Linked DNA regions of Homo sapiens. The protein of the gene in region 2 interacts with the protein of the main gene of each other region in a pairwise test. Each region holds a gene or a part of one and is shown on either strand. Other genes may lie near its edges.

The links. The genes of interacting proteins can lie anywhere in the genome.
Region 1: the proteins of SEPTIN6 (region 2) and SETDB1 interact in binary tests that used the Homo sapiens proteins (3 or more experiments, as listed by UniProt).

What each region holds. Positions count from the first base shown.
Region 1 is NC_000001.11:150,950,363-150,957,750, reverse strand, and holds part of SETDB1 (histone-lysine N-methyltransferase SETDB1), read right to left. Parts: intron 7,294-7,388; coding exon 6,661-7,293; coding exon of another isoform or gene 6,657-6,660; intron 6,387-6,656; coding exon 6,270-6,386; intron 1-6,269. UniProt on the Homo sapiens protein: Histone methyltransferase that specifically trimethylates 'Lys-9' of histone H3. H3 'Lys-9' trimethylation represents a specific tag for epigenetic transcriptional repression by recruiting HP1 (CBX1, CBX3 and/or CBX5) proteins to methylated histones.
Region 2 is NC_000023.11:119,682,633-119,690,408, reverse strand, and holds part of SEPTIN6 (septin-6), read left to right. Parts: intron 1-7,776. UniProt on the Homo sapiens protein: Filament-forming cytoskeletal GTPase. Required for normal organization of the actin cytoskeleton. Involved in cytokinesis. May play a role in HCV RNA replication.

The DNA of each region.
Region 1 (7,388 bases), on a different chromosome or scaffold from region 2:
GCCTGAATGACAAAGCAAGTCCACCCCATCTCTGAAAAAGAAAAAAATTTTAATTATTTTTAAACAACCATTAAAGGTAATCAGAGGGATCTAGCACATACCAACATTAAAGGAAGATAACACAGTTATACTAAGAAAACTAATTGTTTCAGGTAACAATGTTTTTGCTCTATTTGCCCAGTGTTAGAATTTTACTTATTTTCTTGGTATGTAAAATCAATGGAAGAAATTTACTTTGGAAATGTATCAACAGCTCAGTTAGTTCACGATTTTAGTCATATCCTCTCTCCAGATAAAGATGGTAAGAGCAGCTTCTAGTTACTAAGCATATACTTTTGTGTTTGGCATTGTGTGAATGCCTTATATATACATATTCTATCCTTAAAGCTGCCCTAATACAGGTGGTGTTTTTTCTTTTTGAGACACAGTCTCGCTTTGTCGCCCAACCTCCGCTTCCTGGGTTCAAGCGATTCTCCTGCCTCAGCCTCCCAAGTAGCTGGGATTATAGGTGCATGCCATCATACCCTGCTAATTTTTGTATTGGAGACAGGGTTTTACCATGTTGGCCAGGCTGGTCTTGAACTCCTGACCTCAGGTGATCCACCTGCTTCGACCTCCCATTTTTTTTTTTTTTGAGTCATGGTCTTGCTCTGTCACCCAGACCATAGTGCAGCGGCACAAACACAGCTCACTGCAGCCTTGACCTCCTGGGCTCAAGTGATCCTCCTGCCTCAGTCTCCTAAGTAGCTGGGACCACAGCTGCATGCCACATGCCCAGCTAATTTTTAAAACTTTTTTTGTAGAGACAAGGTCTCATCACATTGCCCAGGCAAGTCTGGAACTACTGAACTCAAGCCATCCCCCCACCACGGCCTCCCAAAGTGCTGGGATTACAGGTGTGAGCCACCATGTCTAGCTTTTTTTTCTAACTTTAAAAAAGATTATTTCCCATGTCGGTAATCCCAGCACTTTGGGAGCAAGACTCCATAGCAAAAAAAAAAAAGAGATTATTTCCCTGGTGGTCTAGTGGGTAGGGGGAAATAAAAGATTATTGAAACGTAATATACACAGAGGAAAGTACACGTAAGTCTATACAGATCAATGAATTTTACAAACTCAGCATACCATGTAACCTGCACCAGATCAAGAAACAACTTTGTTAGGTCCCTTAAAACCCCACTGGGGACATGGGGGTGTTTATGTTAATATCCTCTGTTTACAGCTGATCAAAAAAGATCAGCTCAGTAGGGGCAGGGCTGGAATTTGAACTCAGGTGTCATTATTACCACATGAAACCTTTACAGTAGCTATACTATCATTCATTCATTCCACAAAATTTAAGTGGTTACTTTTTTTTTTTTTTTTGAGGCGGAGTCTCACTCTATTGCCTAGGCCGGAGTGCAGTGGTGGGATCTTGGCTCACTGCAACCTCCACCTCGCGGGTTCAAGTGATTCTCCTGCCTCAGCCTCTGGAGTAGCTGGGATTACAGGCGCCTGCCACCGCACATGGCTAATTTTTGTATTTTTAGTAGAGACGGGGTTTCAACATCTTGGCCAGGCTGATCTTGAATTCCTGACCTCGTAATCCACCTGTCTCGGCCTCCCAAAGTGCTGGGATTACAGGCGTGAGCCACTGCGCTTGGCTTTTTTTTTTTTTTTGAGACGAAGTCTCCTTCTGTCGCCCAGGCTGGAGTGCAATGGTGCAATCTCGGCTCACTGCAACCTCTGCCTCCTGGGTTCAACCAATTCTCCCATCTCAGCCTCCTGAGTAGCTAGCACTACAGGCATGTGCCACCACGCCTGGCTAATTTTTTATACTTTATTAGTAGAGACAGGGTTTCACCATGTTGGCTAGGCTGGTCTCGAACTCCTGACCTCAAGTGATCTGCCCGCCTTGGCCTCCCAAAGTGCTGGGATTACAGGCATCAGCCACTGCACCTGGCCTAAGTGATTACTATGTGCCAGGCATTGGGTAAACTGGTGATACAATGGTTAGCAAGACAAAGAGACAGATAAGATCCTTGCCCTCATGAAGGAGCTTATATAATAGAAAAAAAGAAAAACAAGTCAACAAAAGTTGTCATAAATGCTATAAAGAACACAAACATGGTGCTCAATGAGAGAATTAAGGGAGTAAAATGACCTAGTTTTAAAGTGGTCAGGGAAGGTCTCTCTGAGGAGGTGACTTTACAGCTGAAAGCTCAAGGTTAAAGAAGATAGCCACACAAAGAAAAGTGGAAGGATGCCAAGAAGAAGGCACAGCATGTGCAAGTCTCCAGAGGCAGGCTGGAAAACACTGGTTGAACTGGATCCAGGAACTGAAAAATATCAGTGTGGTTGGAATGACTTTGGAGGGAGACAGGAAAGGGCCAAATATATAACCTAAGGTTAAGAGTCAGAATAAAATCCAAACAGCAGAGGGACTATATTATAGAGTTAAGCAGGGGAGTGATATATTATTTGTGATTATTTGAAAATATTTTTATGAAACATTTCAAACGTGTAAAAAAGATATGAACACTCATGTACCACCCAGCATTATCAAATCTAAACGCTATTGTTAGATTCAAAATTTTGTTAATAATTAAAACATACATGATACAGCAATGCAACTAAACAACTGTCTATTCCTTTGTTTAGTTTTTCAATGTTATCAGTACAAATTCATCCTATGATCTCCCCAGTAGTCTCGATCTCCTCTGAATGTATTCAGGCACCTCAGGTTTTCTGTTAAACCAATTTTCCTGAAGAAGTCGCTCCTACAGCATCTGACCTGCTCCTGCAGTGGCTCTTCTCTATGCCTAGTACACAGCTGTCAGCCTGGAAGCCTCTTTCACTGCACTGTCACCTGTCTTCCCCTTTCCTGCCTTTCCCTCTCATTTTTGCAAATATTTCCAGAAACTTTCTGAGAAGGGGAATGATGAAAAACTCTGAGGTACTGCATGTCTAAAAAAATGTATTTAGCCTACTGTAACACCAAATTGATAGTTTGCCCGAGTTTAAAATTCCAGGTTGGAAATAATTTTCCCTTAGAATTCTGAACAGATTCTCCAATTGCTATCTAGCTTCTAGTGCTACTTTCAGGGAAGGCTGAAGTCATTTCAAGTCTATTTTTTAACGTGTTCTATTTCTCTTCTCTAGAAGCTTTTAGGATTTTTTTTTCCCTCAGTGTTCTGACATTTTATGATAATGTCTCTTAATGGGAACCTACCTTTATCCTTCATTATGTTGGGACCTAACTGGCCCTTTCAATTCAGAAACAAAGATCCTTCAATTATGGGACACTTTCTGAATTATTTCACTGATGCTTTTCTCCTCTGTTCTGTTAATTATGTATTCTGATCACTAGGTTTATTAGTTCACGTGTTTATATATACCAGTTTACCATGCTATACCCCACTCTTTTGTTGTCCTCCTCTTGTTTTAGAGATAAGAGTCATGCTCTGTCACCCCAGGCTAGAGTGTAGTGGTGTGATCATAGCTCACTGCAGCCTTGAACTACTGGGCTCAAGTGATCTTTCTGCCTCTGCCTCTCAAGTAGCTGGGACTACAGGCATGCATCTACCATGCCCGGCTAATTTTTTAAAAAATAATTTAGGCTGGGCGCGGTGGCTCACGCCTGTAATCCCAGCACTTTGGGAGGCTGAGGCAGACGGATCATGAGGTCAGGAGATAGAGACCATCCTGGCTAACATGGTGAAACCCTGTCTCTACTAAAAATACAAAAAAGTAGTCAGGCGTGGTGGTGGGCGACTGTAGTCCCAGCTTCTCGGGAGGCTGAGGCAGGAGAATGGCGTGAACCCGGAAGGCGGAGCTTGCAGTGAGCTGAGATCACGCCACTGCACTCCAGCCTGGGCGACAGAGCAAGACTCCATCTAAAAAAAAAAAAAATTTTTTTTTTAATTTTTAAATCATTTTTTTTGAGACGGAGTCTTGTTGTGTTGTCCAGACTGGAGTGCAGTGGTGCAATCTCAGCTTACTGTAATCTCTGCCTCCCAGCTTCAAGCGATTCTCTTGCCTCAGCCTCCCAAATAGCTGAGATTACAGGCGTGCACAATCACGCCTGGCTAATTTTTGTATTTTTATTACAGATGGGGTTTCACCATGTTGGCCAGGCTGTTCTTGAACTCCTGACCTCAGGTGATCCACCCACCTTGGCCTCCCAAAGTGTTGGGATTACAGGCATGAGCCACCGCGCATGGCCAACAATTTTTTTTTTTTTTTGAGATAGAATTTTGCTTTTCTTGCCCAGGCTGGAGTGCAATGGTGCGGTCTTGGCTCACTGCAACCTCCACCTCCTGGGTCCAAGTGATTCTCCTGTCTCAGCCTCCCAAGTAGCTGGGATTACAGGTGCTCGCCACCATCCCTGGCAAGTTTTTTGTATTTTTAGTAGAGATGGGGTTTCACCATATTGGCCAGGCTGGTCTTGAACTCCTGACCTCAAGTGATCTGCCTGCCTCAGCCTCGAAAAGTGCTGGGATTACAGGCGTGAGCCACCACGCCCAGCCCCAACAATTTTTTTTTAGACACAGGGTCTTACTATGTTGCCCAGTCTGGTCTCAAACTCCAGGCCTCAAGTAATCTTTCGGCCTCACCCTCCTCAGTAGCTGTCCTCAACCTCATGCTGGTTCCACCTCCTCTGCTCAACCTTTAAATGTTGGGGCACCCAGGGCTTACTCCTGAGCCGCCTTCTCTATTATCAACATTGTCTCTAGGTGAACTTATTCAGGCTTTAAATACTCCTGTGCTGATGATTCCTAAATTTTTATATCCCACTCTCTCCAGAAATCCCAGTGTCTTCTTGACATTTCTACTTGGATTGCCTGACAGGCATTTCAAACTTTTTGTTTTGTTTTGTTTTCTGAGACTGAGTTTCGCTCTTGTTGCCCAGGCTGGAGTGCAATGGTGCGATCTTAGCTCACCACAACCTCCGCCTCCCAGATTCAAGCAATTCTCCTGCCTCAGCCTCCCGAGTAGCTGAGATTACAGGCATGCGCCACCATGCCCGGCTAATTTTTTTTTTTTGTATTTTTAGTAGAGACGGGATTTCTCCATGTTGGTCAAGGCTGGTCTTGAACTCCCGACCTCAGGTGATCCGCCCGCCTCAGCCTCCCAAAGTGCTGGGATTACAGGCGTGAGCCACTGCGCCCGGCGGCATTTCAAACTTAACATGGCCAAAACAAAAACTGAATTTCACTCAAACCTACTACTCCTTCGGTCTTCCATCTCAGTAAAAAGCACCAACAACCACTAAGATGCTCAAGCCAAAAATTTAGGAATTGTCCTTGATTCTACTCTTTCCCCCCACTCCATAATCTATCCAATTCTGTAGCTCTACCTATTAATACAGCCCAAATCTATCCTTCTTACCTCTACTATCACCTCCATTCTATTGCAAGTCATAGCTGCAACAATGTCTCTCTCTGCTGTACTCCTATAACGATCTCCTAATTGGTCTTCCAAAATCTACTTTTGCCATCCTAAGACCTATGATCTACAAAGAAGCCAGAGTAATCTGAAAAAGGCAGGTCACATCACTTGGCAGCTTAAAATCCTGTAAGAGCACCATGAATTTGATTCTAACTTTTCTTTTTTTTTTTTTAAGGCAGAGTCTCGCTCTTGTCACCCAGGCTGAAGTGCAGTGGCATGATCTTGGCTCACTGCAACCTCTGCCTCCTGGATTCAAGCGATTCTCCTGCCTCAGCCTCCCAAGTAGTTGGGACTGCAGGCACCCGCCACCACCCCCGGCTAATTTTTGTATTTTTAGTAGAGACAGGGTTTCACCAGGTTGGCCAGGCTGGTCTCAAACTCCTGACCTCAGGTGATCCACCCACCTTGGCCTCCGAAAGTGCTGGGATTACAGGTGTGAGCCACTGTGCCAGCCTGATTCTAACTTTTTTCATTCTGATTTACAAAGCCCTATGTAATCAGGTCCCTGCCTACTTCTCCTCTCTGAACACATTTCACTTACAAGTGTAAATCACAATCTGTTAAGACATTCATTTAGCTATGAAATTAAGATAATCTTTTTTTGCAACAGAAAATTGCTAGATACTATTCAATCATTCTATGTCTTCATTTCAAGGAAGGTCCAAGAAAAAAAATGTGTTTTGGAAGTCATGAAATAAGATCTAATTAATAAAATGCCTCATCTGGTATTCTATTTTTGGTTCCAATTTTTAGATTTCTGATGATTTCTATAAGCACAGAAAAACAAGAACATGCTCCTCAGTCTCTCTGAGGTACTGTGCCATTCCTTGACCACTTACCCTGTGGGTAGACACTCTTCTAGTCTCTTGTACTGGTAGCCAGAGTTAGGGTTGATTTGGCCTCCTGGGGTACAGGCTGTAGCCTGGATAGTTAGTTGATGGCAGGCACACTTGGACCTATATGACAGAGGGAAATAAAGGAAAGGAGCGGGGGGATCAGAGAACAAAAATAACACAATACACATGTACCCAAGGTTGCTCAGTGTGGCCATGTCAGACTCCAGCCTCCCTACCTCATAGCTTTCATGGAGGCCTTATAGCAGGAGTTCCAGGTGAGGGAGGAGGTAAAGGAAGATGGGGAAAGCAGTACAGATACAAGGCAAAGGAAGAGGTGAAACAGACACCATAACAAAGTTGGAAGCAGGGGCAGCAATTCCCCCCACCAACTCACTTGTCCCGACACCCATCCTTGCAGTCACAGCCAACCAGAAATTCAGGGCCTGTGTTAATGAAAACACCCTTGCCCGGGATACGTTCCTTGCTGTAGGCCACCTGGGGTGGAGGGGTTGTGTCAATCTCATTGACACAGGATAGGGGAACATCTTCCTTCCCATAAGTGATGTCCAAAATATAGTAAAAAGGCTTATAGGGCTGAAACTTTCGGTCCACAAGAACATATGGATCCAAACAGAACATCTCCAGGAAGAGGAAGTCACAGCCAGTCTCGAAAAGGTAGCGTTCTATCTCCTGCATTGTCCGAAGGCAGAGACCACAAGGTGTCTTATAGATAACATGAAAGCCCATCTTGCGGTTAACTCGACGCCGGGCTGTCATCCGCCGGAAGTCATATAGTAACGGGACCAGCAGAGGGTTCTTGCCCCGGTACTGCTCATTCCTCATAGGTCTGACTCGAGACAGACAGGTATAGCTGCAGACATGAGGTAAGTAGAAAAGCTTCTCCATGGGAGCACGGTAGGAGGGCTCTGCTGGGGCCCGCTCCAGCATGCCATGGAAGACTGGGGGTGCTGGAGGGGCCGGGAGTGCTGAGGGTGCTGGGGCAGAGGCTGTGGAGCCTAAAGGTGATCTGCAAATGAGATGCAAGTGATCAGATCGGAAGGCAACAGGACCTCTGTTTTATAATTAACCCTCCAGGTAGCTAAGCCATTTCTCTCATCTTTC
Region 2 (7,776 bases):
CCATGCGAGTAAGTGCCCTAGTGTGTGTGTGTGTGTGTGTGTGTGTGTGTGTGTGTGTGTATGTGTATGTATGTGGGGGGTGTGTTCTTTCTAGAATCAGTTGAGAGTCACTGTGGGTAAACATCCTTAGTGACTAAAACAAGCCTTCAAGTTGTTGGGTAGGGCTTACATTGCACGCAGCCAACTTGGAAGTTCAATTCTGGTGCACATAATACAAGTCCGTCCCATTTGAATGAACACCACAAACGGTTTGGTGTGACAACACCATTTCTCCACTGTGTCCATATTTACTTGATTGACTGATATGTGGCCAGCACTATGGTTAGCCCTTGTCAACTGGACAAAAAAAGGTAGCAGGCTTTAAAAAACGTTCGTGATCGGACTGGGCTTGGTGGCTCATGCCTGTAATCCCAGCACTTTGGGAGGCTGAGGTGGGCAGATCATGAGGTCAGGAGTTCGAGACCAGCCTGGCCAACATGGTGAAACCCCGTATCTACTAAAAATACAAAAATTAGCCAGGCGTGGTGGTGCGTGCCTGTAATCACAGCTACTCAGGAGGCTGAGGCAGAAGAATCGCTTGAACCCTGGAGGCAGAGGTTGCAGTGAGCCAAGATTGCACCACTGCACTCCAGCCTGGGCAACAGAGCGAGACTCCATCTCAAAAAAGAAAAAAAAGAGGCCGAGGTGGGTGGATCACAAAGTCAGGAGATCGAGACCAGCCTGGCTAACATGGTTAAATCTCATCTCTACTAAAAATACAAAAAATTAGCCAGGCGTGGTGGCGGGCACCTGTAGTCCCAGCTACTGTGGAGGCTGAGGGTGTGAACCTGGGAGGCGGCACTTGCAGTGAGCCGAGATCGTGCCACTACACTCCAGCCTGGGCGACAGAGTGGGAATCCGTCTCAAAAAACAAAACAAAAAAAAGTTCGTGGCTTTTAAGCTTATAGTCTAGTTGGAATGACAAATTGTGGACACTGTGAAATAATTAAAGAACTATAGAAGATCCTTGTGATGCCCCACCTCACCCCCTGACTATGAGGTGGCTTGGGCTGCTATTAATATATATTTCGAGAGGTTCCATGACTTGTCCAAGGTAACCAAGGCACAGGGCAAGCCCCAAAAGCTGCATGTGCTGGCTCTTTTAATGAGCTGTTCCTTTCAATGTTGCATTCTGGGATCCAGACCGTAAATGCCGGCCCATACCAAGAGCATCTGGATGATTCTGGCTTGAACTAGTCCCACAATGTGAACAATGAAGCTTTCTCTAGTGGCAATCTAGGTAGTGGTCATTCTCCCAAGTGAACTTTCAGGGGCTAACTTTGCCCTACAAAGTTAGCTGGGGTTGGTCTGGGTCAACTGTCTCAGAGCAACTGTCTTCAGGTGGGGAAAAGATTGCTGCTGCACTCTGGTTTTGCTATCATCACGTGGCAGTTACCCTTTGATTCCCTTTGAGGTCTCTGCTTCAGGCGTTCCTACCACCACCCACTAAAGGTAGTATCGTACCTCAAACATAGAAAACAAAACCCTATTACCTAGCTCTATTGGTGATACAACACGGAAGAAAGTTTACATGGCCCTAAATATTTAAAAATGTTGATTCTAAATTTGAGGGGTTTTTGGACAGTCATTACATTATTTTCTAACTTCTCTGTGTGTTTGGGATGTTTCTTTTCTTCTTTTCCTTTTTTTTTTTTTTTTCCCCGAGATGGAGTCTTGTTCTGTCGCCCAGGCTGGAATGCAGTGGCGCGATCTCAGCTCACTGCAACCTCCGCCTCCTGGGTTCAAGAAATTATCCTGCCTCAGCCTCCCGAGTAGCTGGGATTACAGGTGTGCACCACCGTGCCCAGCTAATTTTTGTATTTTTAGTAGAAACAGGGTTTCACCATGTTGGCCAGGCTGGTCTCGAACTCCTGACCTCGTGATCTGCCCACCTTGGCCTCTCAAAGTCCTGGGATTACAGGTGTGAGCCACAGCGCCCGGCCTGGGATTTTTCAAAATAAAAAGCGGGCAGAATGACAATGTCCCCCAAATGCACATGGTCCCTTCTTTCAAGGAACTGGTGGAGGCAGACACAAATCACTATCTAATTATCTTTGTGATAAGTGCTACACAGGAGAGTGACTGCCTGCCATGAGATTTCATTACTAAGGGAACCTAACTCAGCAATGAATGGAGGCAGAGGGTGACAGGAAGGGCTTCCTGAGGGCTTCAAATAGGAAATGGGTAGGTGTGAAGGTGGGTGAGATCTCACATCTGCTACTGGGTTGGGAACATTTCATTTGCCAATTCACCCACTTTTATTTTCATTCATTCCTTCAGCACATATTCACTGGGCACTGATCGGCCAGGCCCCGTGCCAGGTGCTGAGGATATAGTGGTGGCCAAGGCACGCAGGAACTCTGCCCTCTCACAGCTTCCAGATGAAAGGCAGGAATAAGCCCTGTTTCCTTTTTACATCCTAAATCCTGGAAATGTGAGTGTTAGCGGTGTTCTTAATACAAAACTACATTATAGCAGAGTGATTTGTCTGTATCATCTAATGAGATTTTGATCTGCAGTCATGTGCATAGCATTTACTTTGTGGAGTCTCTGCTGTAAATTTTCTATTAATTGCTGGCTTTGTTACCAAGCATGGCCACTGCCTTTGTGTGCTATAAGGGAGCAAACCTATTGCATTAGCCTGAGCAAAGCCAATTAGGAAGATAAGTCCTCTGGAAAAAGGTATTCCCAAACTAAGTAGGGCTGATTTCTGGACTTGCCTGGGTTTTTGGATGATCAGAGCCATGGTTTAATATTAGCATGAACAATTGAGAAGGGCTTTTAGTTGCATGTACATTAAAACTACATTCAAGACAGATGAGGCCAGGTGCGGTGGCTCACGTCTGTAATCCCAGCACTTTGGGAGGCCGAGGCGGGCAGATCATGAGGTTAGGAGATCCAGACCATTCTGGCTAACACGGTGAAACCCCATCTCTACTAAAAATTAAAAAATTAGCCGGGCGTGGTGGCGGGTGCCTGTAGTCCCAGCTACTCTGGAGGCTGAAACAGGAGAATGGCGTGAACCCGGGAGGCGGAGCTTGCAGTGAGCCGAGATTGTGCCACTGCACTCCATCCTGGGCGACAGAGTGAGACTCCGTCTCAAAAAAGAAAAAAAAAAAAAGACAGATGAAAGAAAGAAAGAAGGAAAGAAGGAAAAAGAAGGAAAGAAGGAAAGCCATGGATATATATAACATGTTTCTTTCAACGATCTCGAAATGCTTCCATCTGTATGATTTCATTTTCCCCAATGGCTTCCTGGACAAGTATTACTGTTCCCTTTATTTAATGGGTGTAGGGAGACCAAGTTACTTAGTCCGAAGTGCTATTGCTGGTCAGTGGGTGATACGATTAAACACCCACCAGATGACACAGATTCCTTGTTTAAAAACACTTGTCTTTTCATGATGTTTCTAAGACATCAAAATCCTGCCATGACCTCTCTTCCCCCTCTTTTCACTACACTCCCTCAGCACTCCCATAGGGCCCAGGGAAGAGTATACTAGGGTGATTCGGAGACTCTCTGATATTAAAAAGATTCTCAGCTTAAATCCAATATAGCACAGTCACGGGTTGTGTGGGTTTTCTTTTTTATTTTTTCTTCTCCATATTGCTTTAAATAAAAATCTTGGAGCCACCAGCCATGTAATGATGGATTATTTTAAGTAACAACTGGAGTGGGGGGCGCAGAATAAATTAGAAACACAGACCCTTCCTCCTCAGTTTGGCAGGAGGAGGCTTCTGCTGCTGGGATTTGAAACCGTGGGTTTCTCTGCCGCCTGCACAGAGGAAGGAGGCCACATGCTCAGGAGGGTGAGAAATAATGTTATCCTCTTCTTCAGTGTCTTCTCATTAGAGGCAGCCATCTGCTGAATTATGCAGCGCGCTCTCAGCCGGCCCTTCCACTCACTTAAAGGTGACCAGGGAAAAGATCTGCAGGCCTTCTCAGCGAGAGGCCTCAGGGCTCAGGTTTCCCCTGCCATGGCCCTCTCTGACCCGGAATGAAGGCCCTGGGGTAACGGGGCAGAACTCTGTTTTCCTGGCCCTGATGAGGTGTGAGGTCGTGTTCGGTTTCCTTTCACATTGGAGGCCCCCAGCTCTGAACACTGGCGCTGAGGCAGGAACTGGGTTTTTTTCAGATCCCCATTAAACAAGACCAGATGGAGGCAGAGGCAAATTCAGGCTCCCCAGAGGGCAGTTGGGCATTCACCCAGAGGCCTGTGGGTAAACCTTTTCTTTTTTAGCAGATTGGAGGTAACAATAGCCAGAACACCTAGAAAACTCTCTTTCAATTGTCTGGCTTCCAGGGAATCTGGCTGGCTTTTGTGGGAAAGTTTCACTCACCCTGAGCAAGGGTCACCCCTGGCCTGAGGTGGGGATATTTGACCTAGACTTAGGCTTGTGTTAGTCTTGGGGTTCTTCAGCAGAACTGGGCAGCTGGCCAGGCTGAGACTTAGGCCGCAGTCAAAAGAGAGGGAAACAGGAGGAAAAAGTGGGGAAGTGAGTAGAGAGCAGGAACACACAATGAGTGCCTTCCACCGCATTGACTGCTTCAGTTGCCTTCTGTGGGCCAGAACCACCTTGGGGAGCTCACGGGTTTCCAGATTCGGTTCCTTGACCCTTCTGCCCCTGACCAGCATCAAGCCAGAAGCTCAATGTCCCGGAATTTTACCAGTCTAAAGAAACACATGTGCCACTTGAGTCAGCTTTTCCATTTGAGAGTGGCCGTTGGCTCGACAGGGGCCTGGATCCTAGCACTATTCTCTGTCACTAAATCAGTCTGTGACGTGAGCCAAGTCACTTCCTCTCTGTGAGTCTCTGTTTCCCCTTTTGTGAAACGAAAGGGCTGGATTAGGTGATCTTTAAGGGCGTTTCCAGCTCTAACATTGTATGGTGCTTATGTTTCCTTTTTCTCCAGCCTCATTTCTTTTAGGTCCTTGCCTGCGTCTGCTTCCGAATGAGGTGGCAGAATTGAACCCCACCCCTTCCCTGCTTTGACCCCTTGAGCTGGGTGGGGAGAGAGTCGTAGGGAAGGTCGATCTATGCTTTTAGCTCAGCAGGCTCTCGGTAAGTGGAACAGAAACAACCCTTCAGATATTGCCTGTCCATGTAGGTGTAGATAGCTATTGTCTTCCTATAAAGGTACATGACAGCTGAATGTTTGTCTATTGAATCCTGCTTTCAATGCAGTAGAAGAGCCGGCTACTTAATGGAATCCTGCTGTGAATCCTTTTATAGAATGAAAAGCCACTCTGGAATTTATCTTGTGTATTAAAATCAGTTTCATCTATTGGATTTGCCAAAAATGGGCCTCCTCCTCTGTCTGGTAAGGATAGTCTGTCTTGTGCTTCTTCAGCACAACTGCTCCCCAACTGAAGGGCATTTCTGAGGCCCCTTGGGGGTGCTGCCAGCTTTTGCAGGCCTTATTTCTCCTTAGAACAGCCCCCACATTTCTCTTTCCCAGGATAGGGCATTGCTACTACTCAGTTTCCTCTTAGCCTGGCTTAATTAGCATGAGGGACATTCTGATATTTGATGTGTTGGATGCATTTGAGAATTGTTTTTAAAACCTGTGGGAACTTGGCTGTGTGCGGGGGCTCACACCTGTAATCCCAGCACTTTAGGAGACTGAGGCGGGCGGATCACCTGAGGTTAGGAGTTCGAGACCAGCCTGGCCAATATGGCAAAACCCCGTCTCTTCTAAAAATACAAACATTAGCTGGATGTGGTGGTGGGCGCCTGTAATCCCAGCTACTCGGGAGGCTGAGGTAGGAGAATCACTTGAACCCTGGAGACGGAGGTTGCAATGAGCTGAGATCGTGCCACCGCACTCCAGCCTGAGAGAGACAGAGTGAGACTCCATCTCAGAAAAAAAAAAAAAAAAAAAAAACCTCTGGGAACTTATCAGTGCTTTTGTGGTTCTTATGACATAATACAGCGGCATCCTTGGCAGCATTGGAGGCAGCAGAGGAAGCTATCAGCTACCTGATTGTTTCATCAAGACTTTTTGCTACATGTTTCAGGATATATGATTTGACTTCTGGTTCACATGAATCATTATAATAAGAAATTATACTGTATGACAATAAGTTATATATATAATATGTAATAATAAGTTATAATAAGGGGGCTGGGCACAGTGGCTCACGCCTATATTCCCAGAACTTTGGGAGGCCGAGGCGAGTGGATCACCTGAAGTCAGGAGTTCTAGACCAGCCTGGCCAACATGGTGAAACCCCATCTCTACTAAACTAAAAATACAAAAATTAGCTGGGTGTGGTGGTACACACCTGTAATCCCAGCTACTCAGGAAGCTGAGGCAGGAGAATCGCTTGAAACCAGGAGGGAGAGGTTGCAGTGAGCTGAGATCGCGCCACTGCACTCCAGCCTGGTTGACAGAGTGAGACACTGTCTCAAAAAAAAAAAAAAAAAGAAGTTATAATAAGGAGACTAATAGGGTTTTATTGTATTTCTGGTAAAATAAATGTTTTATATACAATAAAACTGCCTGAAAGCTAAATGCTCTGATGACCCAAATTGTCAGGCACCTTTTTGGTTGTAGTTCAATATTTTTCTAAAATACCTGAGGCCACTTTCCTACCCAGGAAAGTATCATCATAGAATCTTTTTTAAAAAAGTAACATTTTCCCTGTTTATAAAAGTAAAATATGCCTATTGTAGAACATTTGGAAAACCCAGAAAAGCAACATCACCTACAACCTCTCTACCCAAAAGAAATCACTGACATTATTTTGGCATGTGTTCTTCTAATCTTTTAAAAAATGTGTATTTTCCCCCATCATTGGGATGACCCTGTGTATACAGGTTGGTTTTCCTGTTGTTGTTTGCCTTTGGTGAGCATTTCCTTTTGTCATTAAATATTCTTAGAAAACATTTTTCTCAGCTGCTTAATATTCCATCATGTATCACTGAACCGATGATTCATAGTCTTGGAGATTTGCACGGTCTTTCAGACATCAGTGTTCAGGGCTGAGAGTGGAAATGGAGAAAAGGGAGGTGTGAGAGCTTGGGCCCACCAGTAGGTGACTGAAGAGAGTCCGGTTTCAGTGTTTCTTTTCTTTCCTAGCATTTTTGTTGTTGTTGTTTGTTTGTTTGTTTTGAGACAGAGTCTCCCTCTGTTGCCCAGACTGGAGTGCAGTTGTGCGATCTCAGCTCATTGCAACCTCCGCCTCCTGCGTTCAAGCGATTCTCCTGCCTCAGCCTCCCAACTGGCTGGGACTACAGGCATGAGCCACCAAGCCTGGCTAATTTTTGTATTTTCAGTAGAGACGGGTTTTCCCAGTGTTGGCCAGGCTGGTTTCGAATTCCTGGCCCCAAGTAATCTGCCCGCCTTGGCCTCCCAAAGTGCTGGGATTACAGGCATGAGCCACCGTACCTGGCCGCTTTCCTAGTATTTGGATGGGAATGGCCAGAGGAGAAAGTTTAGGGACAGCCTAGTCATCAGCAATGAGTTTCAAACTTTTTGCTTTTATTCTTTAGAATGACAGCTACTAATTTAGCCACCCTGGTTTGAAACAGAGGCGGGAAATTCTCCATTGACACAGATGCACCCTCAGTTCCCAGAGGCCTCAAATACGGCTTGCTTACTATCACAGAGGTTGGAAGAGGGGCCAAGGGGAGTGGGGGACAGAGGTGGCCTACTCGGGTGCTTAAGGGACTCTTTATTTTCAGTAACAGCAATGAGAGAAAGATGCGCAGCTGGAACCACCATAACTTGTT